Linked DNA regions of Homo sapiens: regions 1, 2 and 3 are each reported to be linked to region 4. Evidence: microRNA targets listed by miRTarBase, many of them from high-throughput screens and not tested one by one. Region 4 holds a microRNA gene; each other region holds the end of a gene's coding sequence. Distances are from middle to middle.

Region 1 (8,211 bases), not on the chromosome of region 4:
TGTTCTACTTTCTTTCTGTCTCTGAATTTGACTACTCCAGGTACTTCATCTAAGTGGAATCATTAAGTATTTGTCTTTTAGTGACTGGCTTCTTTCTTTCAGAATTATGTTCTTAAGGTTCATCTATATTGTAGCATGTGTCAGAATCTCCTTCCTTGTTAAGGCTGAAGCATACTCATTTGTTTATCATCTGACCTATAAAAATTATTGGGTGTGCTTTATGAAGGGGACACACAAAAGGCTTTTACGAACATATTGTCTGTGGAGCTTGCTGTGTGGAGACAACTTTTGGGTGTGGGGGATTATCTAATCAGAGTTCTGACAGTATCTGGGTCAAGACTATCCCTCTTCCTGTATACCCTCCTCCTTGCAAAGAGGCCAGGCTTGTGTGCGTATCAGGCAGTGTGGAGCTGTGCAGGAGGTCAGCCTCATGTCATGTGCTGCTCTTTCTTCCAGGTACCCTGCTGACTGCTCACTCCCCAACTCCTGTCGCCCCCCACCCGGTCACTGTGCCCACGTACCGGGCCCCAGGAACGCCCACTTACAGCTATGTGCCCCCTCAGTGGTGATCACCTGCAAATGTAAGTGACCAGGGAAGGCTGGGCTAGCCTTTGATGAAAGGGCATTTCCATGGGACAGTGGCAAATTTACCACATATTTAAGCACTAACGAGGAAAGTGTGCCTGACCCTGGATCCAGAGGCAATGTAGTGTTTAAATTTTTTGTTTTTATTGAGACATTACAGAGTAGAAGGAAGGAAGGAACCATTGAATACCTACTGTTGACACTGTCCATCTTGAGCCTTGCCTGGAATGTGCTCTAACCCCCCACCTGCCTGCTACAGGAAATAGGGCTCCAGTTGCAATTGGGGGTCTCTAGGAAGGAAGTGAGAACCAGGTCCAGCAGTTTTGCCCATTGCTGCCCTTTCCGACCCTGCTGGGCCTCATCCTACTTGAGATTTTGGAATAGCGGTGCCGGAAGAGCTCTGTGTGACTGAGTGTCTGTCTTCCTTTCTGCAGGTTTGAGGACGGAGCTGTGCAGTCACATTATTGGGGATTCCACAGCTGGTGCTGCAGGCCTTGCGCCTCCAACCAGGACTTTCTTCTTAATGCTCTCGACACTTAGCTAAACACGACTATATCCCGGCCCAGCAGGCCCCAGCGCCGTTAGTCTCCAGCTGACTCTGTGGGTTGGTCTTAAAGCAAATTCTGTTTTGTGGACTGCCTGGCAATTTTTTAGCTAACTGTAATGATAAAAAGGGAGTATTAATCTATTCTGAATCATATCTAGTTGAATGCATGTTTAAAAAAACAAACACAAAAAGCTTGCTCAATCTACCTGCAGTGACTGATGCAAAACCATCATATGCAAAATCCAAAGGAATGGAAACGTATTTTACAACTTGTATCACTAATGCACTGTTGTAATGTATGCAAAGTCTTACAGTTATAAGTGTTAAAGTGAATTTCTTCATAGAGCATCTGAAATATCTTAGATGATTCTTCAACCTTTTGGGGTTGATGTGGGTTGCCAGTTAGGGATGTGGACATTTTAGTTTTCAGCGACCTGTTTCTTTGGCACTGACTGTCCTGGGAGGGAGTTGCGAGGTTTGGGAGAGAGTAGGGAAGCCACAGCTGCTTGGGTGCAGCTGGTTCATGGACATCCCTTTGAGTTTAGGCTTGGTGGAGTCAGTGGAACAGGGACATGCTTAAAGCTCATCATGAAAGATTATGGTAGTGTGGCCAGTGAAATTTGGGGCGAGGGGGGTGGTTTATGTGTCAGCAAAGCAGTTTCTCTGCTATCTAAATTTTCATTACAGTTCTCTTAGAGAGATGATGTTTTTATATGTCTTTATTGGAAAAGTCCTATGTAAAACTAAATTATTTTCCTGGGATGGAAGAAATGTGAAAGAGAAACAGCCATGCTTGCAGGAGGTATTGTCCTCTGCTTTATTTAGCTTAGAAAATCATTCCTTTTTTTTTTTTTTTCCTGGAGAAATGTTTGAATCAGCTGAAAACAGGTAGGCATTGCTGTTTTTCCCCAACAAAGAAGGGCAAAGGTTTCAGCTGTATGTTATGAAGAAAGTGGTATATTTAAGAATGAGTTAAAAGGGAACAAAACTTTATTTAAAATTCCTCCAATTTCTTGTAGAAAGGCAGGGCCGTGGATATGTCTGGAAATGTAGAAACCTGTAGCTGCTTCTGGGATCACCCACCTGATGGTGGTGACTTGTCTGCTGAGGCCGGCTGGAGGGGACGCTTAGAGATGGGGCGAGGGGGAGGCCAGTGTCTGTTGTCTGCGAGCCTCTCCTGCCATCTCTTTTGCAGCTGAGGGCACTTGGCACAAAGCAAGCACAGACAGCAGAGAGGGCCAGGCAGTGCTGGAGTGCGTTTGCTGGCAGGGTTTATTGTGGGAGAGGAATTTGAGTTTAGGATCTGAATCTTGTACATAAGAAATGAAAAGGCTTCCCTCCACCCCGCCCCCAAAATATGCCCGTCCTGTATCCATGAGAGTGCATGTCGGTTCTCAGTGAGGGTCAGAGTGGGGGTGGGGGATGTAAGGCCTGGGTCCCTTTCAGCGGCCTCTAGGGCAGGAGCGTGCGTCTTCTTCCCAGTGCAGTGGTGGTTTGAGTGCTGTGGGCTCTGGTGGGGAGGGGGCTCTGCTCCTCTTCATTTGCTGGTAGCTGGGTCAGGGCACTGGCGCCCAGTGAGGATGCCCACTAGCATTCTGCCCCAGTTGGTTGGTGGGGGGACACCTGACCACTGAGCCTTTGGTAACCTTATTTTTTATAGTAAGTACTTCTTATAATTTTCTTTTTCACATCTTATTTTATAAGAAGTTTAGGAATATTTTTGCATGGATCATTGTAAACAGCAGATTCTTTATTCCTGATGTCTATTAACATAGAATGTTTACTGATAAGTACTTTAAATTGCTTCATGAGCACTTAATCCATCTTAGTGTCTATGTGTGGGGGCAGACATTTACCGCAGGCACACAGTTTGTGCCCCTTTCTTCAAGTCTCTGTTGGTAATTCCATCTGTTTAGTGGATGGTTGGCAGGATTAGTAGGTTCTAACGGTTCCAGGGGTTCAGCTGACCAAGTAGCAGAGAAGTCTTTTTTCCCAATTGAGTGCTAATAGATTAGGATAAAATACTCACAATGTTAGTGTATGCTTTTAAAAAGCCCCACACAACAAAATGGAAACATACATGTACAACTCCTGTGAGGGCTGGAGTCTTGGGGTTCAGGAGGAGGTTAGAAGTTACAGGCATCTCTTCAGGCTTGCTTGGTACTTGGCACACACAGGATGGTGTTTTAAAGAGTGGGCTGCACCCCCCACACGCCATTTACATCAGCTTCATAAACACTTTTCTTCCTCCCTGTAACTTAACCTTTTTTCCCTTTTATGAAGTTGAGAGGCTTTATGAAATAAGTTTGCATTGCACATCCGTGCAGAAATCTTTCTGACTTTGAAATTTTTAGGACGTCAGCTGTCAGATACGAAAGGTAGATATCAGGTAAGAATCTGGACTTAGGAAATAGTCACAAAACTGTCATAGGTTGTAATTTTATCAACATTCGCTTCTAGTAAAATTAAAGTCAATTAAGAAATAGAACTTGGGTCAAAATTCTGTTACAAAGCTTCATAATTTGTCCCGAAGCATATGGTGGAGCATTCTGAGAAATTTGCTTTTTGTGTGTTTGACATTCCTAATTTGGGAGTCCTTCAGCTGAATTACTATTCTTTTAGAAGTTGAGACAGCAGGTAAGCAAAGGACCTAGTTCATGTAAACATGGACATCATGATGGCTATTTAAAAAATATTTGTTCTACACCTTCTCCCCTGAGGCTTGGGGAGTGTGTTCAGCCGCTGCAGTTTCTCTGCTCATGGAGGTCTTGTTTGGATCTGTGCTGGCGGCTGAGCATTTAGTGTGAGCCAGTGACCCATGAACTTGCCGCTCTGTGAGGGCCAGAGTCAGGGCCAGTCATGGTAATGGGCCTGAAGGCACTTCCAGAACCTTTTATGTCTCTCGTGAGCCATCTGTTAAGAACGTTCTTCTTGGTGTGGTTTGTAGGCCTACCTGTCGCTATTCTGGGAAACCTTCTTGAGTGCTATGCAAATGTGTTCACAGGCAATGGGGGTGGTCCTGAGCCTTGGGGTGGGCACCTGGTCAGTGAGTGTCTTGCCCTTCCCCAGCTGGGCATACAGTACCTTGCTCTTTCTGGTGGCATCATCTGGCTGTGATGAATGAGGTCTAGGAAATAATTTGCATGTGTCTTGGGGGACACAACAGTAACGAGAGGAAATACATTATTACAGCAACTTGCGACGTACTAATACCTGTCAGTGTTGGCCCCCGTAAGGTATGTAAGGCACCTGTGAGTGCCAGTGAGTGCTGGTGAAAGGCCAACATGTACTAGTTATGTAAGTATTGGTGTCTGCTTTAAAAAAGGAGACCCAGACTTCACCTGTCCTTTTTAAACATTTGAGAACAGTGTTACTCTGAGCAGTTGGGCCACCTTCACCTTATCCGACAGCTGACTGTTGGATGTGTCCATTGTCGCCAGTTTGGCTGTTGCCCGGACAGGACAGGACCTCCATTGGGCGCAGCAGCAGGTGGCAGGGGTGTGGCTTGAGGTGGGTGGCAGCGTCTGGTCCTCCTCTCTGGTGCTTTCTGAGAGGGTCTCTAAAGCAGAGTGTGGTTGGCCTGGGGGAAGGCAGAGCACGTATTTCTCCCCTCTAGTACCTCTGCATTTGTGAGTGTTCCCTCTGGCTTTCTGAAGGGCAGCAGACTCTTGAGTATACTGCAGAGGACATGCTTTATCAGTAGGTCCTGAGGGCTCCAGGGGCTCAACTGACCAAGTAACACAGAAGTTGGGGTATGTGGCCTATTTGGGTCGGAAACTGCATGTTTCAGAAAGTTTGTCTCTTTTTCCTACTCATTATTTGAAGAAGAGAGAGCCTGTGGGGATAGCCTTATCTTGGTCCACAGGACTGAAGTGAAGTCACTTGGGAAGGGGAGACAGAGGATGAGCGGCGTCTGTGTAGGGACCCCCCCCCGGGCCTGCAGAAGGGTGGTGTGCTCCCAGGACTGGCATGACAGGTGTCTCCTCCTCACCACAGGCTGTGCCCATGAGTCCCTGTGCAGACCAGTGGGCAAGGCAGCTGGGCCAGATCTCAGGCCAGCCGTTTGTGCTCCTAGCAGGGTTGCTGTGCTGGCCACACGGAGAGGCCCTAGAGAGCCTCATGGATTGTAACTAAAGAAGAAACGGTTCCTTTTTGTTTTTTTAAAAATGATTTTTAAATACCGTTTTTTACACCGTTCTCTCGGTACTTTTTTTAAGCTAAGTCAGCATTGTCTTCCAGTGTTAAAGGCATCCCTCACCTCTGCATTGAACTTACGTATCCATGCCAAGGAATGGAATTTCCATCCTGAGCCAGTTCAGTTAGGTGTCAATTGATACTATTTTAATTTTTTATGCAATCTGATGAGATGAGCTCAGATTTAAAAATCTCAAAAGCACGTTTATTGTAACAAGAATTGTTATGTATTAATACTGCAGTTTTCAATAAAGATTGACTTGTGTTGCATATTGTGGTTTTCATGATTTCTCCATATGGGTTTTTGTCTAGAGGTAGCATGGCCTGACTGGGAGGTGCTGGGGCTTCTCTCAAGTTGGGAGATTGCCAGGGGTTTTGAGAAGAAGACCACCATGGCGTCCAGCCCCAGTGACCTTGGCAGTGCTGGAGTGTGGTGGAGGCAGCAGGTTGCAGGGGACCATTTTCCCAAGTGGGACAGGGAGGGAAGCAGCACCATGCTCCCCTTCTGGCTTCTGTGGCCAGGGTCAGAAGACCCTGGGAAGACACGTTCTTCCTCATTTCACCAGGGATGCTGAGGCCCAGAAAGATTACTGACTACTCACCCACCAAACTCACGTGGGCCAGCTCCAGTCAAACAAACACAGGGAAGCACTGGTTTCTGGGTCTTGAGTGCAAGGGAGGGCAGAGCTACCTGTATTCCCCATCAGCAACCAGCATGGCCTGGCCCTGCTCGCCTTAGGCGAACAACTGCAGCCAGCCCCGCCTCAGCCTATCATCTCCACTAAATCCCCGAGGGTGTGATCTGCGACAGGTGAGCCCCCACCCCACCTTTAGAGGCTGCTGGCCACAGGAAAATGCACGCACACCCACAGAAAACGGGCTAGCAGCCAGGTTACTTTTCATAAATTTATTTATGAAATTAAATGTGGTTTCTGGCTTGGAGAAGGAATAGTGCAAGAGTGACTGTCCATGCTGCTGAATCCTGTGGGCTCCACGCCAGCTCGCCAGGCCCTGGCTCTGCTCCTGGCGCCCCTTGGCAGGACAGGGCGCCATCTCCACACACCCGCTGCCTGGGCTGTGGGTCAGTCCTGTGTGCTGAGCCACAGAATTCGGTCTCTCTCTTATGGCTTCTCACGCTCACGAGCGTAAGGCAATCTTCTGTGTCACTAAGAATCAATTCTTTTTCTCCATTGTTTGTTGTTAGAAAAACAAGATGCCAAAATCCAAACAAAACCAGGAACGAGGTGGTTCTGGAGCTACCGCACAGCAGCAGGCAGACTGACCACACTCCCGACTGGGAGTATGCAGCCGACTGCACCGTCTTGTCCTTTTCCGCTACACACACACACACAAGTGAAGAGGGTGTCCAGCAGCCAGCGGTGTCTTGAGGGGCTGGGAGGCGAAGGGCGGGCTCCGGGCGCAACACAAGGGTGTGGAATTCCTGGCTTCTGCCCTCCCAAGTGGCAAGCTGCCTGGCACCACTGGCCGGGCTGGGGACTTGGAGAACTAGAGGGCAGAGGGGCACATGGCCTGGCATTGCAGGCCACAGAAGGCCAGAGAGTCCTGCCCAGAGGAAATGAAAGGAGGATTAGGTTTCCAGAGAAGAGGGTCCCACGCAGGTAGCGCCTTCTCCCCAGCTGGGCCTGGGCTGAGCTGCGGTTTCCCCGCTCCAGCAGTGAGGCCCTACACAGGTCCAGAGGGCGGATGGGGCCCAAGCTGCAGCGGCGGTGTGGCGAGTGCGGGGTCTGCCCCCTTGCTGGTCTCTTCAGGGCACCAGGAGCAGGGAAAAAGACAACAGGAGTACAGACCTGGCACGTCTTGGTGGCACAAGCAACTCCCCAGCCCATCCCTGCTCACTTGCAGGCAGAGGAAGGCCAGGCCGAGTGGGCCTCGGGGAAGAAAAACTGGGGGCCACTGGCAGGAAGGCCCAGCAGGTGCTGTCAGGCAGGGACCAGTTCACTTGCGGAAGGGTGCCAGCCGGCTGATGCTGTGCCAGAAGGTAGATGGCTTGCGCCTGGGCTCCGCCAGCACCAGGACCTGCTGCTGGGGCCGGTTGCTGGGCAGGGCTGGGTGCTTCTGGCGCGTCAGGTAGCAGGGCCGGCCAACAGCTGAACAGGGAGAGACAGCAGAGGGTCATGGGTGCCCAGGGCAGAGTGCCACCCCAGCTGTTGGGGACAGCATGGGGTCCGTCCCAGGGCTCTGCTTCAGAGCCGCCGTAGGAGGCAGTTTTGCCACACAGGACTTGCTCCTGGAGAGCTGACCACATCCAAGAGCTCAGGCTGCCTGGGGTCTCTGGCCTGGGCCTGGCCTCCTGCAGCAGCCTGAAGAGGGGGGTGGCCTGTGCAAAGGCATGTGATGTTTCAGGGGCATGGCTCTCTGTAGAAATGGGGAAAGCAGCTCCATCCCTACACCAACCCCAGATGCCTGTCAGGAAGGAACCCTGGGGAAACAAGCATTGTCACCAATGGCCCTGATCTGGGGGAGCCAAGGTGTTGAGAGTAAGAATGTCAACCATATACTGACCCAGGCTTCCCCAGTGGCCCCTTATTACCAACCTTTGGGAACAAACAGCTGCAAAGGGCAGTGGGCCCCCCTCAGGCCTGGTGGCTAGCTGGCTTGGCTTTGTGGTTCAGAGAAGGGAATGATGTCAGCAGGGTAAGGACCGGGCAGCCGAGGAGGTGGGGCTGCTGTCCGCCTACCTTTGGGCTTCCCTGTGACCTGCTGCTTGCTGGCATTCAGCATGGCCTGCTTCCTCTGCAGTTCAGTGATGGAGAAGCCTGAGGAAGGGGCACAGGTGAGGGCGCTGCCCCACTTCGTGGCCCCAGGTGCAGTTCCCTGCACACCTGCACCTTCCTGGTGCCCAGGGTCTCATCATGTACTGGGGA
Region 2 (8,475 bases), not on the chromosome of region 4:
ATAATAGCAAAGTCCTACTCCAGTAAATAAAAGTTGATATGTTTGTACTAACTTTCAAAGACATTATGCGTTTTTATCATTACAAGGCATCTAATTGTTCCCTTCATGTGATAAAGGTGGTGGAGGTGGATACAGCAGTCGGAGAACATCTGGCAGAGACAAATACGGACCACCTGTTCGTACAGAATACAGGCTTATTGTAGAAAATCTTTCTAGTCGGTGCAGTTGGCAAGATTTAAAGGTATGTTTTGTAATTCAAGATAGAAATGATATGACTAATGCTTTAAAGTAAACTCCTTTTATATTCTTATTTCTGGGAATTTATTATGGTATATAGATGTTTTAAGATTTCCGAGTCTGACCAATCTTGTCTTTCAGGATTTTATGCGACAAGCAGGTGAAGTAACCTATGCGGATGCCCACAAGGAACGAACAAATGAGGGTGTAATTGAGTTTCGCTCCTACTCTGACATGAAGCGTGCTTTGGACAAACTGGATGGCACAGAAATAAATGGCAGAAATATTAGGCTTATTGAAGATAAGCCACGCACAAGCCATAGGCGATCTTACTCTGGAAGCAGATCCAGGTAACTTGTTGAAGGACACTGTGGGAAGGAAACAATATTTGCCAATAAAAAGGGAGTAATTGAGTGATGTCAATTGTTGCCTACTTGAATTAAAGCCAGCTTTTAGTTTGTTTTGGCTGTGCATCATTGCGTTCTTTTCTGGATGTTTTGAACAGTGTATTTAATTTCGTAGTAAAGAAAAACATTATTCTTTGGCTTATCTATTTTTGCCAGATGGCACGGATGTATTTAAGTTGGATTGGGATTAAGACTTCATTGTTTTTCTCCTAATAGGTCTCGATCTAGAAGACGGTCACGAAGTAGGAGTCGCAGGAGCAGCCGCAGTAGATCTCGAAGTATCTCAAAAAGTCGCTCCCGGTAAATAACGTTGTGTTGAGTCACTGTGAATATTACCGTACTTGTTTATGGAGTATGTGTACATTCTCACTAAGTATTGAGAAAATCGGTCTTTCCTTGTCCAGTTCCAGGTCGCGGAGCAAAGGTCGATCACGTTCTCGATCAAAAGGCAGGAAATCTAGATCAAAGAGCAAATCTAAGCCCAAGTCTGATCGGGGCTCCCATTCACATTCTCGAAGCAGATCTAAGGATGAGTATGAGAAATCTCGAAGCAGGTCTCGGTCCCGATCCCCTAAAGAAAATGGAAAGGGTGATATAAAGTCAAAATCCAGATCAAGGAGCCAGTCCCGTTCCAATTCGCCGCTACCTGTTCCACCCTCAAAGGCCCGTTCTGTGTCCCCTCCACCAAAAAGAGCTACTTCAAGATCCCGTTCTAGATCTCGCTCAAAGTCAAGATCAAGGTCCAGGTCGAGTTCCAGAGATTAACTCAGAACTCCTTGTTTGCACATTATTATGGAACACTTTCCTACTTAGGCAGTTACTCTTCCATGTTTATACTTGGCCTCTTCTGCAAGAGGAATCTCTTGAAAACAGGGGCACACAGAAATTTGATTTGTGGCCAAATTGGATGAAAAAGATGAGGCTCTAAGGAAATGGTGGCATGAAGACCCTCTCCCTTCTTTGTAGAATTAAGATAACTTTGATTTTATAGCTTTTGAGCTAACGTAACTTTTGTAAAGATTAAGCTCATTTAGTGTTGTTTTTTTTTTTTTTTTTTTTTTTTTTTTTTTTTTTTTAGTATTTCAGCAGGATCTGCTGGCAGGGTTTTTTTGTTTTATTTGTTTGCTTATTTTTAAATTAACTGTTTTGAGCTTTGAATACTTAAGGCTTTAGAGGGAGAACCCAATTTTCAATTATGTTGGCTTTTTATAAAGCTTGAGTTATGTAAGATTTAAATAAAAGTTTGCTACCAAGATGATTGCCTTATTGAATAGGTCACTATTAAATTCCTTTAAATGTTGATATCTGCCATTTGTGGAAACAACGTAAATTCTACTTAAGTGTAAACAAGGCAAGCCTCAGACCAGCAATAAATTACTCAGTTTGGATAACATTATTTTGTGCAGTTAATCAAATTTGCCAAAGTCTTTATCTGCCCCTTTAACAAGTTGAGTAAAAATAAAAGGTATTTTTTAGTCAATGTGTTCCATGATTTTGCTTAAATTAATACTTTTAAGTAATGGAACTTTTTTCAAAGGCAAATTTAAACTATTTAAGAAATAGCTCCTAATACTTGGGATCTTGTTTAGAGAATCCACTTTCTGGAAGTTCTCAGCATAATTAGTGTTGAGAGTGGTTCAGTTGTCTTTAATGTTTGTCATGTGGAAATGGAAGTAGCCTCTTTTTGTTCTGAAATTGAGTTTATTCAAAGTGTAAAAGCACATACTGCATTTTCTGCTGAAAGATCATTATGTTTAACAGGCACTTAATCTCAGTAAAGTCAGTTGCCAGTTAAGTTCCACCCAGTAGTCAGTCCCCTTTGTAGTTAGTGGGATTATTTGATAATTGGTTAGATCATACTTGTAAATTTTAATGCTTTGTGTAATTGGTTTGAAAAACAGTGAAATGGGTAAACGCAAAACTTTTGTACTTTATTACGAGTAAAGTGTAATGAGTACTGTGGAAACCAAATTTGAATACTGCAAATTTGTAGGAGTTACTAGGTTAGCAATTAGTCCATACATCCATAAGCCTGATGAGTTGAAATTGCAGTTTGAGAAGTGAATTAACCTTACATCCCTTTGTTCAGATACCTTAAAAGTTACTTTATTTAAAAGCATTTATTAATCTTAGTCTGAAATCAAAATATAGATTAATTGGCTCAGCTTTAATACCTTTCTAGGAGGTGTCACAATGTAGGGTACCAAGGGTTGGATTGTGATGGGGCATGGTCGTACACTGCTCATTGTGCCACAGGTGTGACTGGAAAGCATGATATTCTAGGGTTGGTTTGTAGATTCAAATAATCCAGAAATATACCTAATAAGATTGAGTGAAAAATTTGAGTCAAATATCTAGGGCATTCACAGAGTAGCTGTGAGTTCTTGGTAATGTGAAAAAGGCCTTGTTTTTCAGAAATTCCTGGGTTTCCTGTTAAAAAATCTTAAAGCCCAACCTTAGGAATATAGTGCCCCAAAAGGCGGATGCTTCTTCCATTATCTTATTTTCTTTGATACTTTATTTAATTAGATGTTTATAAAGAAATGGGTTTATTTTTCCAGCATAAACCTCAGAATTTAAGGAAAGAAAATGATGTCTGTTGTTATAGTTCATTGTTTTGCCTACTCAGCAGAAGTGATGACTCTTAAAAATTGGCTTTGACCAAAGTTCTCTTGTTTTCAGGGAAAGAACATAAAAGCTTTTTGAACTACAGCCTTTTTAAAAGAGGGATGGGAGGATATTACAGTAAGAAATTAGGCTTTCTAAAAGTATGAAACATCCTTCAACTGGGCTCTCTTGTTAATAGGACATCATATGGTAATAGACTGGTTTGACTATATTGTTAGCTGCCACAGTAAGCAGGTCATTGTATAGGTAAATGCCTGCACCCATAATTTTCTAGTAATAGCCACGACCAATTTATTAACAGTCAGGGCCTATCCTTGCCTGTAGTTCTCAGTCACTGGATGCACAAAATCACTGTGTAACATTGGCTCACTTGGTGAGCATAGGGTTGACTGATAAAATGTTTAATTCCCTTGCTAGCTTGTGAGAAGAATGAGTTGATGACATGCTCCATACCAGTGGCTAGATGGAGTATTAAGGTGGAGCAGAAAAGAAGTGAGAACATCTTGATTCCCCTTTCTTTTACTTGATGGTGTTTATGAACATGCCGTAGTGCCTTTATGGCCAGTTTGAGTCCTGCCTACTTTGACTTTTACGTTCCCATTCCTGTGTTACCACCTTCCTCCCGATTTGTTCACCTATTTTGTGCTTTAAATCTCAATAAAATACTTACTGAGGGAAAGGCTTGTTTTGAGTTTATTGCATATGCCCACTTAGGACCAGATTCTTAACAAATGTTTTTTTGAATTGGAGTTTGCATTGGCAAGCCATTCCTGTCTTGAGTATGAGAACAGGATCTTGTGTTCACTTACCCAGAAACGTGAGTTTGGGATTTAGTATATGGTTTATGTTGGGCAACTCATTAATCACTGTGCTTCAGTGTCATCCATGAAACTAGGGATAAAACATGCATGGGATGTGAAGATTAAAAGTCAAGAATATGAACAGTACAAGAGAGTACCATAACAAATACAATTTTATTTACAAATATACATGGTTGGACCATACCTTGGAATCTACTTGCTAATGCAGCTGCTGTTAACAGTTCTTGTATCTGCTCAAGAGATTTCTATGATCATATAAAAATGCCTTTTTAGGTTTTCAGTGTTCATGCCCTGAGTAGTAGTCTGCAGTTTGCTTTAATACATGGTAATACAGAGATCGGCTTTAAATGGCTGGCTGGTTACTGTTGAATGAATGTATGATAAATTTTTTTTCAGAACCAACAGTGTGAATAATCCTTTCAGTTGTCTATCAGCATGAATTTAAAAATTACTTTCAAGATTCAACATTACACAATAAAACTTAGAGTTCTTGCAATAGAGCACCTAGTGTAGTAATTACCGATTTATATGCTAATCTTTGAGTTTCCTCAGTGACCATATTTTGAATAACAGATTAGTATCCCGAACATGTATGCATCCATTTACTGAAACGACAAGTCAGTACAATTGTGCAGTTGGTCTTCGTACATCCTATATAGCTTGTTTACATATGCCTGTTTATCTTTGAGCAATCCTGCAGATGGCCCCCAGTATAGCACTTAACACAGTCGTTAACTTTTTATTCCTTTTGAATAGAAAGGAATCATGGTTCAAAAATTAGAAGAGTGGGTGCGGTGGCTCATGCCTGTAATCCCGGCACTTTGGGAGGCCAAGACAGGAGGATCACCTGAGCTCAGGAATTCAAGACCAGCCTGGCCAACATGGTGAAACCCTGTCTCCACCAAAAATATAAAAATTAGCCAGGCATGGTGTTGCGTGCTTGTAGTCCTACTACTTGGGAGACTGAGACAGACAGAAGAATTGCTTGAACCCAGGAGGCGGAGGTTGCAGTTAGCCAAGATAACACCATGGCACTCCAGCCTGGGCGACAGAGTGAAACCCTGTCTCAAAAAAAATTTTTTTTCAATGTGTTTTCTGGGAACAGGGCCATTATCTTCTGTAACTACAGAATTATCAAAATCAGGAAATTAACTGATAAAATACTGTTGTCTGATACACAGTTCATACCGAAGTTTCATCAGTTGTCCCTTAATGTCCCTTACATTTTTTCTCTTGGTCCAAGATTCATTGGTTGCATTTTGTTGTCATGGTTCTTGAGTCTCTAAATCTCTAATGCATCCTCAGGCTTTTTCTTCATGTTACTTTTTGAAGAGGAGTTAATATACCTAGCCTCCAGTTAGCCTCCTCTCCCTCAAAATTATTTTAAAAAATGACTTAATAGTGATCCAGGTTATTAACATGGGTCACTGGACATAATACATCGAGGACAGAGTCTCATTCTTGTGATATTCCTGCCCAAAATGCTGTCATGTAGAAACGAGACAAATCCAAGATGAGGGCAAAACCTACAAAATAAACTTTTCTTCCCCCCACGAGACAGAGTTTAACTATTGTTACCCAGGCTGGAGTGCGATGGTGCAATCTCAGCTCACCACAACCTCCACCTCCTGGGCTGAAGCTATTCACCTCCCTCAACCTCCCGAGTAGCTGGGATTACAGGCATGTGCCACCACGCCCAGCTAAGATTGTATTTTTTTAATAGAGGCAGGGTTTCTCCATGTTGGTCAGGCTGATCTCGAACTCCTGACCTCAGGTGATCCCCCGCCTCGGCCTCCCAAAGTGCTGGGACTACAGGTGTGAGCTACCTTGCCTGGCCTTCTACCATAAAGGAATTGCTTTGGAGGGGTGGCGGGGAGGAGGGGGCAGGTACACTATATGGGTTTTCTTTAGGTTTTCTGTTTTTTAAGAGATGGAGTCTCACTCTGTTACCCAGGCTGGAGTGCAGTGGTGCAATCATGGGCCCAAGCGATGCTCCCACCTCAGTCTCCCAAATTGCCGAGACAAGTGTGCACCACCACACCCAGCTAAGGGAGTAGACTTTTAAAGGTAAGGTTTAAAGAAGGTGGTTTTTTATTTTTGTCTTTAGGAGGGAACCAATTTGGAGATTAAGAGCTGCTGAAGGCAAAGCTTTGATGGCATCAGATAGAACCCCCATTACTGCTGAAAGCAGAGCAAGTCCCCTAGCCCAAGGCCAAAAGGATTGGGAGGCAAATAAGTTGCACCCTCATCTATAAAACAAGACCTGCTAATATTGTGAAAAGTAAATACTATTATCAAAGCATTTGGCATAGTCACTCATTAAATAGTAACTGCATTTAGGAAAACATTCTGAAATAGAAGAGCTAAACTCTCCGGGTGTGATGGCTCATTCCTGTAAAGGAGGCCAAGGCAGGCAGATCACTTGAGATCAGCAGTTGGAGACCAGCCTGGCTAACATGGTGAAACCCCATCTCTACTAATAATACAAAAAGCTGGGCGTGGTGGCGCAGGCCTGTAATCCCCGCTACCCTGGAGACCAAGGCAAAAGAAACGCCTGAACCTAGGAGGGGGGTTTACAGTGAGCAGAGACTGCACCACTGTACTCCAGCCTGAGCAACAGAGCAAGACTCTGTCTCAAAAAAAGAAAAAAAAATAGCTAAACTCTAATAATACTGTTCTAACCAACTTGAGAAAAAGGCAAAACAAAGATGCCAAACGTGGAATGTGGTGCCCAAGTATTAAAGTATCTACTATCCCTACTTTTTCGTCCTTCATGAGCAGCCCGAGTGTACTAAACACATTACTGTTACTTTTGTCATACAAAGTTTCAAACACCAGTGAGAATAGTGGAATGAACCACCCTTGTGCTCCTCTAGCTTTAACAATGTATACCTGTCTACTTCCTCTCCCAAATAATTTTGAAGGAAATCCTAGACATTTTATCTGTAGATGCACTATATAGCTCTTTAAAGACATCTAAACTCTCTTTAAATCTAGAGTCTCTTTGTCCCCTTGCAGTGTGTTTATTGGAGAAGCTAAGTCATTGTCCTGGAGAGTTTCCCAGTCTTGATTTTGCTGATTGCAATCTCATGGCGTCATTAAGTGTATTCTCCTGTATGCTGCATTTCCTGTAAATTAATAGACCTAGAGAAAGCGGGTGTGTGTGTGTGTGTGTGTGTGTGTGTGTGTGTGTGTGAAGGGTCTCACTGTATCACCCAGGTTAGAGTTGCAGTGTTACAATCAGCTCACGCAACTTCTGCCTCCTGGGCTCCAGCGATCGTCCCACCTCAGCCTCCTGAGTAGCTGCCACCATGCCCAGCTAATTTTTTCTCTTTTTGGTAGAGACGGGGTTTCACCATGTTGCCCAGGCTTGTCTCAAACTCCTGACCTCAAGCGATCCTCCCACCTTGGCCTCCCAAAGTGCTGGGATTACAGGCATGAGCCACTGCACCCAGCAAGAAGTGTGGTTCTGCCAAGGCACAGTGGCTCACGCCTGTAATTCCAACACTCTGGGAGGATCCTTTGAGCCCAGGAGTTTGAGACCAGCCTGGGCAACATAGTGAGACCCCATCTCTACAAAAAAATTAAAAATCAGACTGATGCTGCCCACCTGTCCCATCTGCTCAGGAGGCTGAGGTGGGAGGATCACTTGAGCCCAGGAGGTTAAGGCTGCATTGAGCCAATCATGCCTCTGCACTCTAACCTGGGTGACAGAGCAAGACCCTGTCTTAAAAAAAAAAAAAAAAAAAAAAACATGGTTCCCAACCAGCAGCATCAAAATCATCTCCGATGTTAGATGTTACAAATACAGTCTTCACCCCAGACTCTGAATCAAAAACTGTGGATAGAGTCAGGCACAGAAAGACAAACTTCACATGTTCTCACATATTTGTGGGAGCTAAAAATCAAAACAGTTGAATTCCTGGAAATAGTAAAAGGATGGTTATGAGAGGCTGGGAAGGGGTAGTAAGGGGGTGAGGGGTAGGTAGGGATGGTTAATGGGTCCAAAAAAGAATAAAATATAGTATGTGATAGCACACAGGGTGACTATAGTCTGTAATTTAATTGTACATTTTAAAATAAAGACTATATAACTGGATTGTTTGTAACATTAAGGATAAATGCTTGAGGGTATGTCTGTGTAGTGTGGGTAATTAAAAAGAAAAAATAAAAATACAAAAAAATGCTTGAGAGGATGAATACCCCATTTTCCATGTTGCGATTGTTACACATTGCATGTCTGTATCAAAGTATCTCATTTACTTTATGAATATATACACCTACTATGTACCCACAACAATTTTTTTTTTTTTTTTGAGATAGAGTATCGCTCTGTTGGCCCAGCCAACTTTTTTTTTAAACAAATAAATTAAAACTCTGGG
Region 3 (8,475 bases), 42 Mb from region 4:
GGATCTTTAACAGCCCCGCAGCCAGCAGATGGTCAGTTATCACAGGAATAATGCAGACTGGCTGTTCTCTATCCTTTCATGGGCAGTGGAACCTAAATGGCAAAAATGGGTAGATTTTAGGAAAACTACTATATCTGGCAAAGTTCCTTATAGAATCTCACAGAATTAACTCTTTCAAATTAGCAAAGATAGACATGAAAATCAGTTCTAATTCTGTGGGACAGTTTCACGTCCCATATTTTTTCTTTGTTTCTTTCACAATAACCTCTAAGATGGTCAATCTTTGTGAGCAAACATGATAAAAGTGGAAAATTAATATGATAACCTCTCATGAATTATAAGTTATAACTTGGGCTCTATTCAAGGCTCACTCTAACTCATGAAATAAAATGGCATTGCAAAATGTTTTCAAAGAGACATGTCTTTTGTAATCTTAATACTGTATTTCAGTGAAGGTGAAGGTTAGAGGCATGTGTGAACAGGACCACAGTGCATAGCCATTTGTTAAATGAGTAGTTCCAAAGGGTAGGCAAAGGGAGAGAGCTATGCCCTGCCCTGCCCTGCATTGTAAAGGGAGTTATATAAGCCTTACAACAAACATAAGGAAGGGATTATTCTAATCACGGAGACATGGATAGAGTAACTAATTTGCCCATAATAGGTGTCAGAACTGGGACCTAAATCCAGATCTGTTCAACTCCAAGACTGGCCCGTGTGAAATTAAATATGCAGTGATATGTCAGGATATATCAAAAACATGTCATACATGGGCCACATCTTTATATAGGGTCAATTGTGTTTAGTATTTAGTAGTAATTTTAATGTCATTTTATATTAAACAAAATATAGATGTGCTATAGAGTGAAACATAGAATTTGAATGATTTTAAATTCAATTTAGATGTGAGATTCAAAAGAAACTTCATTTTTGAGGCAAGCCATTTCAAGTTATGTTCCCAGAGTCTTGAAATGTTGTACCTCTTACTTCTCCCACAGGAGTTACTTAAGTAGAAACGTTTGAGAAACCAATACCTGTCCAATGAAACCACCTTAGATTGGTCCAGTGGTCAAGCTCTTTGTCAAGCTGGATCTAAGCAACCATTGCAGTAGTGACTTATGATGGCCTGTGGAGGGCTGTAGCCTCAAAACACTCAACCCTTGCTTGTAAAAAGTAATTATTTTATTTTGCAGGAGGCTGTTATTGAAAATCGAGCCCTGTGGATGATGATTAAAAGATGTTTCGGCTATCAGTCAAAAAGCCAGTATCGGATATGGCAGAGGGACTTGGCAAATGACCCTAGTTGGCCCCCGCTAAACCAAACCTCCCACTCTGACATGCCGGAGTGTGGCAGAGGAGTGTCTTACAGCAATCCAGTATTTGAGAGCAATGAAGAACAACTCTGAAGGACATGTGATATCCAAGTTGATATTACAGAGAAACAATGACAAAAGGGACCAGTTTCATTGATTTTAAGAAATGAGACTCTTGTAACATCAGCTGGAGTTTTGGGGCTACCTATCAAATCATGGTGACAAACTAAAGTCTGTTTGATAAAATACTGTCTACAGAGAAGAACATTGACCCAGAAGAGTGCTTTCCTCTTGGCTTCTGAAGGTATTAGAGGCATTCAGTGAAGGCAAGAATGGGCCAAGAATTTCTATGGGCCAAGAGACAAGCAGGCTAAAGGGGAAAAATATGTGATCTTTCCTCTTAGGACAGGACAATACTTTCCTTTTTATAAAAATGAGTTGAGGGGAAGTAGTACTGTGTATACTCACGGAGTTGTAATTTTTGAATTTTTACTTCATCGATGGAAAAACTAATGCGTGGGAAACATTACACCAATCTTTACTGTCTGGGTTCCTTTTCTCTGTAGTACTTTTCAGATTTGAGGCTTTTTCTTCTGTTTCTGGCCTTACCCAACATATTGTTAAGGATAAGCTTAGCCTATGCTGCAATAAAAAACAACTCTCAGATATCAGTGCCTTAACACACAAGTGCTTCTTTCGTGATCCAGGTGACACTCTGGAACTGCCATTCTTACAGCAGTGACTGCTTCAACCTGATGGCTCCATCAGCTCGATGCAAGGACTGTGTGTTGACTGTGATGGGGGAAGGAATAGACTGGAGATCACGTGTGGGCTCTTCACTGCCTCACCCCAAAAGTGGCACACATTGCTTTCCCTACTCATATCTCATTAGTCAAGGATTTGGCCAGGGAGCTGGAAAGTGCAGTCTCCTGTGTTTAGGGATGCTTCATGGGCTTATGAGCTGTCACTACACAGGGCCCCATGCTTAGAAGGTCCCCACACTTGGCTTTAACACTCTGCTGTTTCCATCTTAAAATTCTTAATTTTTGAACAGGGGTCCCCATATTTTCATTTTGTACCAGGCCCCACAAATGATAGAGTTGGTCTGGAACGTAGTCCTGGGAAGGAGAGGAAAATAACAGATCAGAAAGCACGAGTGCTGTCCACTACAGCCCACTTTTCCTAACCCCAGTAACTTATCCTATGTTTTAGGAATCTCTCATGTCACATGGCCAACTCCAGAAATTTTCACTCCTCTGCTTTATTATTTTTGAGAAACATTAGTCTCATGCTACAGCATTATATGGCACTATTGATGGGAGTTCTTACACAACTAGTACATTTTTTTTTTAAAGTTTGTGGCTTGAGTTTCCAGAAAACTAAAATTGTCCTTATTTTGTCACTATTACAATTTGGTTATATTTGATTTGTTCAGCACAAGGAAGACTCAGGTTTCTGTTACCTCAGGAGACAACACTGAACTCTAGGAGCACACCTACATATAATATTTTAAGGCAAAAGCAAAATTTGTATTATGAGCATCAAATCCTAGGTGAATGTTCTGATCAGGGGATAAGTGTCCTGGCCCAGGCTGGCTTTGGAACTTATCAATAGCATTTGCAAGCATTCCTTCCCCCTAACTGAGCTCTTGAGCATGGCTGATGGCTCTATGATTGCAGCTGATTCTAGGAACATGGTGTCTCCCAGCCATGAGGGTACCCTGTTACTTCTGGTTTTAAAATAGGGCGTGAAGATATTTTAGTGTTTCAAGACTGCAGAATCACTGTCTTTTTTGGTACAGAAAGAAATGTTTCCTTTTGCAAAGCCAGCCTCAGCAATGATATGGCAGTTCTGAATGTCCTTCTCTAAAAGTGTTTCTCATTTTCCAAAAGTAGAGGGTTGTAGGCAGGGGCAAGCTAGAGATGGTCTGTGACCTAGTCATGAGCAAGATCAGCCTGCACAGTTCATACTTAAATGTGCCCTTTGCTAAGTGCATTCACCTCCACTAACTCACCTGAATGGTACCAATTGTCCCATGACTGAACAAGGAAGGGCTTATCATCTCCACCATACAGATGAGAAAGCTGAGATTCAGTAATGGCAAGAGCAGATCTAGGCCTCAAATACAGATCTTCTGAGCAAACCTTATATTGCTGCCAAATACTTCCAAATTCCAGAGTTCCAGCAGGGCAGGTTGCTTAGTGTGATCTCACAGTCAAGCAAAGAATGGGCAACCCTTTGCTAATACCAGGCCCTCTGTTCAAATGAATGCCAGGCATCCTGCCAGGCCTGGGCTAGAGGTGTATTAAAAACAAAACAAAACAAAACAAAAAAATGATTGTCTGTCTTTCTGAGACTTTGAGTTGCTCTTGCCTTGATCCTAAGTGATTCTATCACTAGCAAAGGCTGGCAGGGAACAGGAAGAAAAGAATCTAGTCCTCCACTAGTCAAGCAGCCATAAAATCTTTGGGAAAAGAGACTCATTTTGAAGACTGTATTCCTGGGATTAACTACATCTTAGAAGCAGTAATTGAAGGAACAGGGAGTGCCCAGCCTGGAAAGAAAACAGTCAGGGGACTGTGAAGGGTTTTCCTGAGAAAGAAGGATCCTACTTGTGCCAGGTGGCATGAGAAGGCAAAATCAGGACAAATGGGTAAAGATCACAGTGGGGATGGCTTCAGGCCATCTGCCCTAACCACTGTCCTAACAGCCAGCACTGATAGCAGTGGAATGTACTCTAGGACATTGGAGGAACAAGTGGCTATTCAAGGGCCAAGTAGAGAAGGAAGTCAAGTATCAGATGAAACTCAATTACCTGCAAGATCTCTTTCAAGCTTGATACACCCAGTGTCTCAGTCTTATGCTGTGATGTGAACCTTTTTTTTTTTTTTTTTTTTTTGAGATGGAGTCTCACTCTGTTGCCCAGGCTAGAGTGCAGTGGCACAATCTCGGCTCACTGCCAGCTCCGCCTCCCGGATTCACACCATTCTCCTGCCTCAGCCTCCCAAGTAGCTGGGACTACAGGTCTGCCACCATGCCCGGCTAATTTTTTGTATTTTTAGTAGAGATGGGGTTTCATCATGTTAGCCAGGGTGGTTTCAATCTCCTGACCTCGTGATCCGCCCGCCTCGGCCTCCCAAAGTGCCGGGATTACAGACATGAGCCACCAGATGTGAACTATTTTCTACTACTACCCACACAGAATACCAGACAGACACTCATGGGAGGATGGGCTCTGGAGGGAGGGCTCCCAGCCTTGTCAGATCCGATTGTGTGGACATATAGACTCAATTGCCCTGTACCTTGAAAGGGGACCCCTAATGGAGATAAGATCCTAGGAAAGAGGGGCAGAGTAGGGGTCCTGATTGTCAGATTGAAGCTGGGGTAATACTTCTGATTTGTGAATTTTCTTAAAGAGAGGTGTTAAAAAACTTTGCATGAAAGAGCGTGGGAGAGTGCCCTAAACTTGAGGGCGGAGCAACCTGTTATCAATACACTTTCTTGAGCAGAGTCTGAAGGAGAAACGAACACAGTCACATAGTCCAAATCATTTGAGACGGTGCCCTGTATGTTCATCTCAAGGCATCTAGCTCTTACCCACAGAGAACCGTGACTCTGGGCTTCCCTCACTAAATATGTCTGTGACATCTGTATCCTTATGTGCTTATGGAAATGTTCACATACACACCTGCAGATGTGATGACTGAAAAAAACGATTATTTATTCAGAGCTTTGTATTTAGTTTATGCTATAATAAATTCAGTTGTTATAAAAATCAGTCTCTCTCTCTGCGGTGGAGTCTTTCATTCTGTCTAATGGTGTGGTTTACTCCAGTAATGTTGAATCAAACAACATCTTTACAAAGTTCCAGGCATTTTCTAACACCACAGATGCTATTATTCTCTGCTTTATACACAGGGCATTAGAGTTTACAAAATACTTTCATCCTTGTTCTCTCATTTAAGCCTCGTTAACAACCTTAGGAGGAAAGAAAGGCAAGGATTACTGTCTCTCTTCTTTTGATGAGGTACAAGGCTCTCCAGATGTCTCAGCAACCAGGACACATGGCCCATGGATGGAGGAGCTGGATTCAGATGCAGGTCCTTTATCAGCGAGATCCCTGCTGTGTCACTCTCCTATGTTGTTTTTCCTGAATGAAAAAAGAAGAGAAAAACCGTAGCATTGAAAAACAAGACGACAGCGAGGCAAATGTCCAATGTAATTGCCATAATGAGCACAGTTTCTTCCAGAAAGAGATTTTGGTGTTTCATGGAAGTTCTCTTGAACCTGACCATCAATCACAGAAAAGGCCAACTCCCACAGCTGAGGGAGGAAAATCATAACACCAGAGCCCTGTGAGCCCATTTCATGTGATTGGATAAAGCTCTGGTTTCTGACTTCAGTCTCCAGAAACAGAAAACTATATCCCTGCTTGATCTTTATTCAGACTTGCTTGGCACAGCTTTTCAGGTTCCTATAGATTTTCTTTTGGCTTTGAACTGTGCTCACTTCTCTATGCATAAACATTTGGAAAACTGCTGCCCTATAACATTCTGTCTGCCCTTTGGTTTCCATTAGACTTGTTAACAATGGCCTTTAAACTTTATTAGTAAAGTGAGTTTCTCCAAAATTAAACAAAGATAAAATTAACAACAAAACACAACTCTCCCGGAGTTGATGAAAGAGCCTTAGGAGTGAGCCACATGGCTTTGTCAAACACTCTGAGCTTGCTCTATCCTCAGGAAGACTGCATTTGCCATCCTCTCTGCCTTGAATGCTGCCCGCCACCAACCCCCTGTTGCCATTCCTGATTCCTTCTCCTTCAGATTTCAGCTCACTTGTCACTTCTTCCAAGAAGCCTTCCCTGACCACTCTGTCTAATGTTGCTCTTGCTCTACTACCGTGGTTTGTTTTCTGCATAATGCCTGTGCCACCCTTCAGATGACCAAGGCTGAACGAGTACTACTTGTTCAAGAACCCATAATGGGGAAATGAATGAGCTGAGTCTATAATCTAGACCTACTGACTTCCAAATCAAGGTTCTTTACATTTTTCACATCTAGCCAGATTCTGCTAATTAAATTAGCTAATCTGTCAGGGAAAAGAATGCAGGATGCTGCAGAGCATTGTCCATGGTTGGATGAAAAGCACTCAAAGAGTCATCCAGACTCTCCCAGCTCTTTTCCTTGCTGTCTTGACTTCGAAGTGTTTCAATGCCAAGAAAAATCTGATAAGTCACTGACCTGTGATAAAGGCTGCACACATACTTACCGTGGACATTCTGCTGAGTTTAAAATTGTGGTTAAAGGGGGTTACACTGCAGAGAGGTCTCACATGTGTTGTACGTATTTCACACTGTACAGTCCTAGGAGGCACCATTCATATTGTGCTGCAAGCCCAGGGTGATGGTTTTGCATCATATCGAGGAAGTTTTGTGGGTAAATGATGGCTTTTACCTTTGTAATTACAAACACATATATGCAATGAAAAGTCCCACCTGGGCCTGCTACAAGCAATTCCTAAGTCCTAGACCCTCTCTTGGCAGTGTCTCTTGTGCAGAACTTCCTCTCCTCTAAGCCCTTGGTTGTCACCACCTGCCTGATTACAAGAGCCTCTTAAGTAGTCTCCCTGACTGAGATCTTTCTTCTATTTTTTCTTCTCGAAGTCTCTATCTATTCTATTGCACAACTCTGATGATGTCATGTCCATGGCCAGAAACCCTTAATGGTCTGAAGTGTCTACCAGATAAAGTACACATTGCTTACTAAGGATTTCAAGTCCTTCTCCACTGGCCACATCTGGTTTCATCTCAGATCTTTTCCCTTATTGCCTTCTCTACTTCAGCAAACTGAATTTCCTATTACTCTCAGCACTCAGTCCTCACTTTCCCACCTCAATAGCTGATATGGTTTGGCTCTGTGTCCCCACCCAAATCTCACCTTGAAGTGTAATCCTCATGTGTCAAGGGTGGGACCACGTAGAGGTAATTGGATCATGGGGGCAGTTTCCCTCATGCTGTTCTTGTGACAGTGAGTGAGTCTCATGAGATCTGATGGTTTTATAAGTGTCTGGCATTTCTCCTGCTGGCACTCACTCCATCGTGCTGCCCTGTGAAGAAGGTGCCTGCAGCTGGGTGCGGTGGCTCATGTCTGTAATCCCAGCACTTTAGGAGGCCAAGGCGGGTGGATCATCTGAAGTCAGGAGTTCAAAACCAGCCTGGCCAATATGGCAAAACCCCGTCTCCACTAAAAATACAAACATTAGCTGGGCATGAAGGCGCCTGTAGTCCCAGATGCTTAGGAGGCTGGGACAGGAGAATTGCTTCAAGCCAGGAGGCAGAGGTTGCAGTGAGCTGAGATCTGCCACTGCACTCCAGCCTGGGCAACAGAGTGAGACTCTGTCTCAAAAAAAAAAAAAAAAGTGCATCCTTTACCTTCTGCCATGATTGTAAGTTTCCTGAGGCCTCCCCAGCAATGTGGAACTGTAAGTCAGCTAAATCCCTTTCTTTTATAAGTTACCCAGTCTCAGGTATTTCTTCATAGCAGTGTGAGAACAAACTACTACAGTAAATTGGTACCGAAATGGTAGGGCGCTACTATAAGGATACCTGAAAATGTGGAAGCAATTTTGGAACTGAGTAACAGGCAGAGGGTGGAACAGTTTGGAGGGCTCAGAAGAAGACAGCAAGATGTGGGAAAGTTTGGAACTTTCTAGAGACCTGTTGAATGGTTGTCACCAAAATGATGATAGTAATATGGACAATGAAGTCCAGGCTGAGGTGGTCTTAGCTGGAGATGAGGAACTTCTTGGGAACTAGAGCAAAGGTGACTCTTGGTATGCTTTAGCAAAGAGACTGGTTGGCATTTTGCCCCTGCCCTAGAGATCTGTGGAGCTTTGAACTTGAGAGAAAAATGATTTAGGATATCTGGCAGAAGAACTGTCTAAGCAGCAAAGCATTCAAGAGAAAGCAGAGTGTAAAATTTTGGAAAATTTGCAGGCTGATGATGCAATAGAAAAGAAAAACCAATTTTCTGGGAAGAAATTCAAGCCTACTACAGCAATTTGCCATAAGTAACAAGGAGCTGAATGTTAATCACCAAGACAATGGGAAAATGTCTCCATGGCATGTCCATGGGGAAAATGTCCTTCATGGCAGCCCCTGCCA
Region 4 (7,000 bases):
AGGAGAAATACCTAATGTAAATGATGAGTTAATGGGTGCAGCAAACCAACATGGCGCATGTATACATACGTAACAAACCTGCACGCTGTGCACCTGTACTCTAGAACTTAAAGTATAATTTAAAAAAAAGATTAAAAAATAGTTATAATGCCATGATCAATTGAAAATATATTCACAAATTCTTTAATATTTCTATTATCTAGAGATGGAGTCTGTATTTCCTGCCCTTGAACCAGGGCAGGACTTTGTGGCTGCATTTTAAATCTCTAGCCTGTAGAACACATTTGTCCCTGAAAGCCAAGGCATTGCAATACCCCTACTTAAATGGTGTGACAGATTATCTCAGCACTTAGCATCACTTTTGCCCCTTTTACACTCTTTTCTGGTATCATGGGGCAGGAAGCCTGGGAACTACATTTCCTACAATCCCACCCCATCAGTTATAGTAGAGATAACAAATGAGAGGCACACAAGTGATATTCAAAAGATGGAAAGGCCGGGCACAGTGGCTCATGCCTGTAATTCTGGCACTATAGAAGGCTGAGGTGGGTGGATCTCTTAAGATCAGGGGTTCAAGACCAGCCTGGCCAACATGGCGACACCCCGTCTCTACTAAAACTACAAAACTTTGCCGGATGTGGTAGCGCATACCTGTAATCCCAGCTACTAGGGAGGCTGAGGCAGGAGAATTGCTTGAATCCAGTGGATGGAGGTTGCAGTGAGTCAAGATCTTGCCACTGCCCTCCAGCCTGCACAACAGAGCAAGATTCGGTCTCAAATTAAATACAGGTGGAAAGGAGGCAGAATGTATTGTTGCAATAGAAATGCTGGTGGCAGACTAGCAGCAGTTGCTAGGTTCGGCTACCTCAGACTTCATACTCCTCCGTTATTCTTCTTTTCGGGGGCTGTGCAATGACTGTGACGTCAACAGTAGCATTCTGCACTTTGCTGTAATCTATTGATTCCCTATATTAAGTTTCTTTCTGCTGGAAATATTTAACATAGTTTGGTTTCATGACTACACACTCTGACAAATACACCTGAGAACAGTCATAAGGGTGTCTTACCTAGTAAATGGAGCTTCAGCAGCCCATTCTTCCTTTACCAGAAAAGAGACAATCCAGTGTCTGGAAGTCAAAATTGCTAGGATACACTTTTTCTATTGCATGGGAGGGTTGGAGGGTAGTGTTGCTATACTAAAACTAAATCCTCCCCCACCATGATGTTCAAAGACTAAAGGGAGGTGGATATTTCTGACAGACATGCTATGTGCTTGAATGTCAGCTTATTACACACAGGGGTGAAGCAGGGTTTTATAAAGAAAGAGAACTCTGTGTGAGCCGTCCCTAGGGAGATATTATAAATCAAATCGTGATTCAGGCATTTCTGTGTCCTCAAGCCAAACACTATCTAGTAGTGTCCCAGACCCCATTTAAAGTCCTAACAAGAGAATTGTAATACCGATAATTAAATTCTGAAAGAAATGAGGTCATTGTTTTGTTGTCATAATAAAAGGATTTTGGTTTGCACAGTGTCTGGAGGAGGCACGTGTCCATGTGTTTTCAAGCTTTGTCCAGTAAAACAGTGTGCCTGTGACAATTAGTACTGACTTTTTACCAAACATATGCTTAGAAATAAGGATAATTTATTATAATAATCATAAATACAGGATTAAAGAGGAAAAAGTACTTTTTTTGTTCTATTGTATATGTTCTGTGGCAGTAGACTAGACAGCTAATAATTTAGACATCTGAGAGGACCACCTACCAGAACAGAGGGTCTTTACTCTTCTGACAAATAAACTAGTAGGTACCCAAAGATTGAGGCCCAGAAGAAAACAGAGAGAGAGGCTTTGTTTTAAAATGTACTGGGGTTTGTTTTGATCACTTATAGTAAGACGTGAGCCTGACAATGACTGTCATGAAGGAAGAAGGTGTTTGCACTCACAGTTCCCTAGAAATAGGAGGCACAGCAATGCAGGGAAGTCGCTTGTGGAAGCCAGGCAGGGGGCACAGGGGAAAAGCAGGGGTCAGCGCCTTTACTGCAGTTTTGTGGAAAGGAATGGGCAAGGCAGGAAAATAGGCTAAGCAGGTTTAGAATTGTCTTGTTGAATCATTTCAGCAGGCTCTGGGGTGTAGGAGCTGTTTGGAATTGTCTAGCACCTCGCCCTGGGCTGATTAGGGCAAGAAACTATTGGCCTGGAGTGGAAGGGTCCCACAGAGGTAGGGGGCTAGTTACAGTAGGCTTTGAATTGCTTAGTTTGCATATAAAAGAGACCCTCCCAGGTAACACTGTTTGATATCTGCAGGAATTAACTAATGCTGGGAGAGGCCATCCCTCCAGATCTGTGAGGCCCAAGATGCCAGAGCATCAGGAATACAGAAAATAAGAAAATAAAGTTCAAGTAGGTTTACAGTGAAAGTTTTTCTTGTTAGTTCCCAACTATACACCCTAGCACGAGTCCCAGAATTTCTACAGTCCTGGTTTACAGATGATACTCTCAGCAGAGGCAGAGTGACTAGGCTTCTCAATTTATTCATATGGATAATAAAGTGGCTCAAATAAAATGAATATTTATTATAAGGCCATAAAGCCATTTCACAAAAAATGAAGCAGAGGTGAATCTCCCAGGAATAGGAGCTGAGATCCAGGGAACCACTGAAGATAGAAGTTTCTCTCTCTTTGTCTCAACTGCATATAATCTTCCTCATCTATGATCATTGGCTACTGTCCACAGACAGGATCAAAATGCCCAGGGCCCAAGTCTACAGACCCATTTACTTCATAGGCCCACATCCATTTGACTAGAGACTCTGTGTCTCAGAAAATACATTTGCCTACAGGCTAGCCAACAGATTGACAGCCACCTGGATAGGTGTTGGTCCCTGGTCCAATCAGGGAAAAGGCTATGACATTAGACGAACTTGAACAGAGAGACTCATCTCTTCAGCAAGGGTGAGCATGGAGCTGACAGTGCTGTAGATAGGCCAGGCAGGCACCCTGAAACTACACCACCTCTGTTAGCTAAGAAATATAATTCTTCTTGACATTGAAGAAATTGCTAAAAATTGTGACAGGACTTGTGGCTGTTAACCTATTCAGAGGGAAAGATGGTAGTACCGAATGCTGCTCACTAAATATTCCCAGCTCTCTGCCCTCCGGCACATAGCACTCTATGGCTCCCAGTGGTTGGTGGAGGCCATGTAACTATTCTGGCCAATGAACTGAAAGCACAAACAATGTATGCCACTTTCCTGTTGAATGTTTATCTCTTGGCATGATTTCCTCTGAGCTCTCTTTGTCCCTGCCATGGTAGCATCCTCCTGATAGCGACTATTCTATCAGCCTGGGACCCAAAGCAGGGACAACACATGGGTTGTCAGAAGAACAAGAAGTCAACTTCCTTGTTAGCCACTGAGATTTGGAGTTTGTTATAGCATAACACAACCAATGCCAACTGGTTTAATAAATCCAAAAAGTTGTACTTATTAAGTAGAACCCAACAAATGCTATTAACTTTAATCATCCCTCAGTTCTGGGGAGAGCAGAGGAGACCTTATGCACTATCTTTTCTACTATTCATCTCAAATCTTTCCTAATCTATCATTTGTGGGGTAGGGTTTCACTTCCCTGCTTCCTAATTCATAAACTATCATGTTTATCATTATTTGGTCAGATTTCTGATTTTCTAGCTGATACCTCCCATTCTAATCCAAATTTGCTTTCTCCCCTCTGCCAGGGAGTTCTCATGACATGTAGCTAGGGCCTCACTTTGTGGCAATTTTATAAGCCTCTCATTAAACATTGGCACTGCCTCAGTTGCTTTCTGCACTGATTCTCCCAGGACTGGACCCCTGCCTACTCCCCAACTCAGCCAGCTTATGACTTGACCCTCTCACCTGATTTCTACCAACCTTTCCTCAGCTGATTTCTTTCTGGGGAGAGATTGGTAGAAATCAGGTGAGAGGGTCATGCCATAAGCTGGCTAACACTTTCATGCATTAATTAATACAGGAATCATAGCTATCATCTTAATCTATCACTCTCGTATCTATCTGATACTATGCATTAACGTTCTCAAAAGGCAAATTCCAACTAGAACAGTGTTTCTCAAATACCAATCAGTGGGCCAGAAGCAACAGAATTAGCTCAGTAACTCACTAGAACTCCAGGGTAGGTGCTTTAGTAGGTCTAAAAATATAAAGCAGAACATTTCTATGTTTGTTTGTTTTTATAACTTCCCCCAGGTGAGTCTGATGCACAAAAAAGTTTTGAACCCCTGGAACAGATCATTCTGTAGCTGCTTGAACTTCATAATTTGAACTATTTACCTCAACCTGGAGGCAGGCCTGGCTTTCTTGATCCCTTGTTTCAATTTTGACAATGTTCACCTTCTGCTCTGGCCAGGAGCTCCCAGGATGCCAGTAAACCAGACCTTACCACTCACCTCTGTATATAATGGCATCTCAAATTCCTTATTCACTTTTTGTACTTCTGGGTTACAAACATACTGGTGATTTTATATTATGATTTTTACAAATGGGTGAAATATGGTTTCTGGGCCTATAAAGTCAAGCACTAGATTCTAGATTCAAGGTCTCTCTACCAATTTGCCAAACCCCAGTGAAGTACTGCTTAAAGTTCTCAACTGGTCTTACCTCCTAACAATTGATAATTCACACAGCAATTGTCAAACCATCATATGAATTAACCAGTAAATCCCATTCTCTGCCAGTACTAGAGAGTTCTTTCAGAGTTTTTAGAGAGAAAGTATAGCATAATATAAGCCACAGATTCCAGAACCAGATTGCCTGACTGAAGTCCTAACTGCGCTGTTTATTAGCTGGTGATCTTGCACAAGTTACTTAGCTTGCCTCTGTCTCAGTTTTCTACTTCCTAGGCTTGTTACAAGAGTTAAAGGGACTGATACCTATAAGAAATCTTGTGCTTAGTATGTATTCAATGAACATTTAACCATTACCATGATTCTTACTTTTTAGTTATAGGCTATTTATTTACAACCACTTGTATATGAAACTTTCAACTGCACGCTTACCTTTGGGTACCTCTTGTAATTGATTCACCGGTAACTCACATGTCATTATGCTCTCTCATGCTAAAGCTCAGTCAGTAAGTAAATTGTTTCTTGGCCTCTAAGGACATGCATACCTCATTCAACTGCCGTAACCCAAATGCATGCAGATATCAAGCAAAGCAAACTGGTAAAAACTATGGCCAACTGGGGAACACAAACTTCATCTAAAAGGTCAGCCACTTCTCAGTCCAGCCTAATATTTCCATGCCTGAATGCAAACCCAATGCTTCCTTCTGTCTTTTCAAAAAGAAGCCAGAAATTTAGACTTTCATGGTCAATTTCCCAATTTGTAAATGTTGTCAAAGAAAAAAAGAAAGAAAGGAGGAAACAAAGAGAGGAAGGAAGGAAGGAAGGAAGGAAATAAATTCTTAAACGTCATGCTGGCCAAAACATATATGTAAGCCAATTTGATCCAAAGCTGCCAATTGGCTCCCTGTGCAATTAAAAAAAAAGTCAAATATAAAATTGAATGTGTGTACTGATGCAAAAAAGGAGTATGAAACCCGATAATATCAGCTTGGTCAAATTAAATATGCATGTAATGCCCTAAAAATATGTATTTAATACATTGTTTATTAGAACTAACATAAAGAAATTAGAAAAAATATAGCTATTTATGTTTTACTCCTAAAGCCAATGCAAGGTTTGTGGTAAAACCTGATGATGATCATCTTCTATGAAACAGAATATTCTTTTCACACTCATAACAGGAAGCGAGCAAAGATGTGTTTAGGAACATAAATGCTGGATCCAGACTGCCTGAATTTAGATCTTAGTTCTGCCTCTTGCTGGGTGAATACCCTCTGATGTCTTCATTTGGATTGCTTCCCCAACCTGTCTGTGCCTCAGTTTCCTCACCTGTGAAATGGATATAAGAACAGCACTTACCTCATAGGTAGTTCTCTGACAATTCAATGACTTAATTATTATAAAGCATTTAAAACAGTGCCTAGCATATAGTAAGCCCTATATAAATATTTGTTAAATAAATTATGGCTTTTGTTCAACCAAAATTTTACTTCCTAAATACTTATAAAATATCATAAGGCAGGCTAATATTTTTTTTAAACGCTGCAAATTCAACTACAGGAAACCAAATTCTCTCCAGTGCTTTAAACTAGAGCTAAATGTCCAAGTGAATATTACTGTTGTTGGTGACAACTCTCCAGCACTTGGATATAATTCTAACAGAAGGAAAAAATGCAAGTTGTTGTCAGGGACAATTGAGTATCTGATGGCTTGATGGCTTCTGAGGTCTCTTTTATATATCCATAAACGTGTTATTTGTCTTACTTGGCAGTGAAGCTCATGGAAAACTGAACTCTCTCCCTAGAGTCCTTAGCTTTTTATTAGATTCAGGATTTCCTGAAGCCCATTCACATACCTCAAATTAAGAAGGCCCAAGTTAGGACATTTTATTATTTTGTTATTCTAGTTAGTTGATGCCTAAAGTGTAGGCAGGATGCCCTGGGACATGAGGTGCAGAGGTACGGGCCTTAGCAAGCAGTACCAGGTAGGAGAAATGGGAAGAAAGTCACTCTCACGGTCAAGGCTGTTTATTCCCTCTCCTAGAGGGCCGCAGGGTGAGAAGATATATGGCAGACACACCTGAGAGCATTAACTCAAGCATACCCTATGAATGACCTACCGTCTAAGAAAAATGTGTGTTAGGAGTTCTGAGCTAAGGAATCCGGGAGTGGCCAACCCAGAGATTCACTCCTTCTCTATGAAGAACATATGAATCCCTGGCCCATCCCTTAGAATGCAGGTCATGCAGAGGATTGAGGCCCTATGTTTTGGGTTAAATGGAGTTTGCTAGGTGGAGGTTGCTAGGTGGAGGGGGTTAAATGAACATTTTTATATAAACTCCATGATCTTTACAAGTGGTAGCACTTTTCCTGTCCA

What was found. Region 4 holds the annotated microRNA hsa-miR-5186 (AGAGAUUGGUAGAAAUCAGGU, at 3,942-3,962, shown strand). A microRNA usually pairs through its seed, bases 2 to 8, with sites in the 3' UTR of a target mRNA and lowers its output. Matches are read on the target gene's strand: a 7mer-m8 pairs with bases 2 to 8, a 7mer-A1 pairs with bases 2 to 7 and ends in A, and an 8mer does both.
Region 1: the mRNA of FAM168B is a reported target of hsa-miR-5186. Seed matches in the 3' UTR shown: 7mer-A1 at 5,516-5,522.
Region 2: miRTarBase lists SRSF6 as a target of hsa-miR-5186. Seed matches in the 3' UTR shown: 7mer-A1 at 2,412-2,418 and 7mer-A1 at 3,923-3,929.
Region 3: miRTarBase lists ATP13A4 as a target of hsa-miR-5186. Seed matches in the 3' UTR shown: 7mer-m8 at 4,254-4,260 and 7mer-m8 at 4,410-4,416.

Annotation. Positions count from the first base shown.
Region 1 is chr2:131,045,261-131,053,471 of GRCh38, reverse strand. FAM168B (family with sequence similarity 168 member B) reads left to right here. Exons shown (of 7, transcript NM_001009993.4): 6 at 457-581; 7 at 1,020-5,596. The coding sequence ends at 569. It overlaps ARHGEF4 (Rho guanine nucleotide exchange factor 4), which reads right to left. Exons shown (of 14, transcript NM_001367493.1): 13 at 8,026-8,103; 14 at 6,219-7,434. The coding sequence ends at 7,283. Among named protein-coding and RNA genes, the nearest start is that of SMIM39, 14 kb to the right of the region's middle.
Region 2 is chr20:43,459,655-43,468,129 of GRCh38, forward strand. It overlaps SRSF6 (serine and arginine rich splicing factor 6), which reads left to right. Exons shown (of 6, transcript NM_006275.6): 3 at 117-241; 4 at 379-587; 5 at 861-944; 6 at 1,049-4,589. The coding sequence ends at 1,409. Among named protein-coding and RNA genes, the nearest start is that of SRSF6, 6.0 kb to the left of the region's middle.
Region 3 is chr3:193,395,580-193,404,054 of GRCh38, reverse strand. It overlaps ATP13A4 (ATPase 13A4), which reads left to right. Exons shown (of 30, transcript NM_032279.4): 30 at 1,191-5,088. The coding sequence ends at 1,403. Among named protein-coding and RNA genes, the nearest start is that of ATP13A5, 21 kb to the right of the region's middle.
Region 4 is chr3:151,562,866-151,569,865 of GRCh38, reverse strand. MIR5186 (microRNA 5186) reads left to right here and starts at 3,871; the gene lies at 3,871-3,990. All of the region lies in intron 1 of LINC02066 (long intergenic non-protein coding RNA 2066), which reads right to left. It also overlaps a transcript of IGSF10 not described here.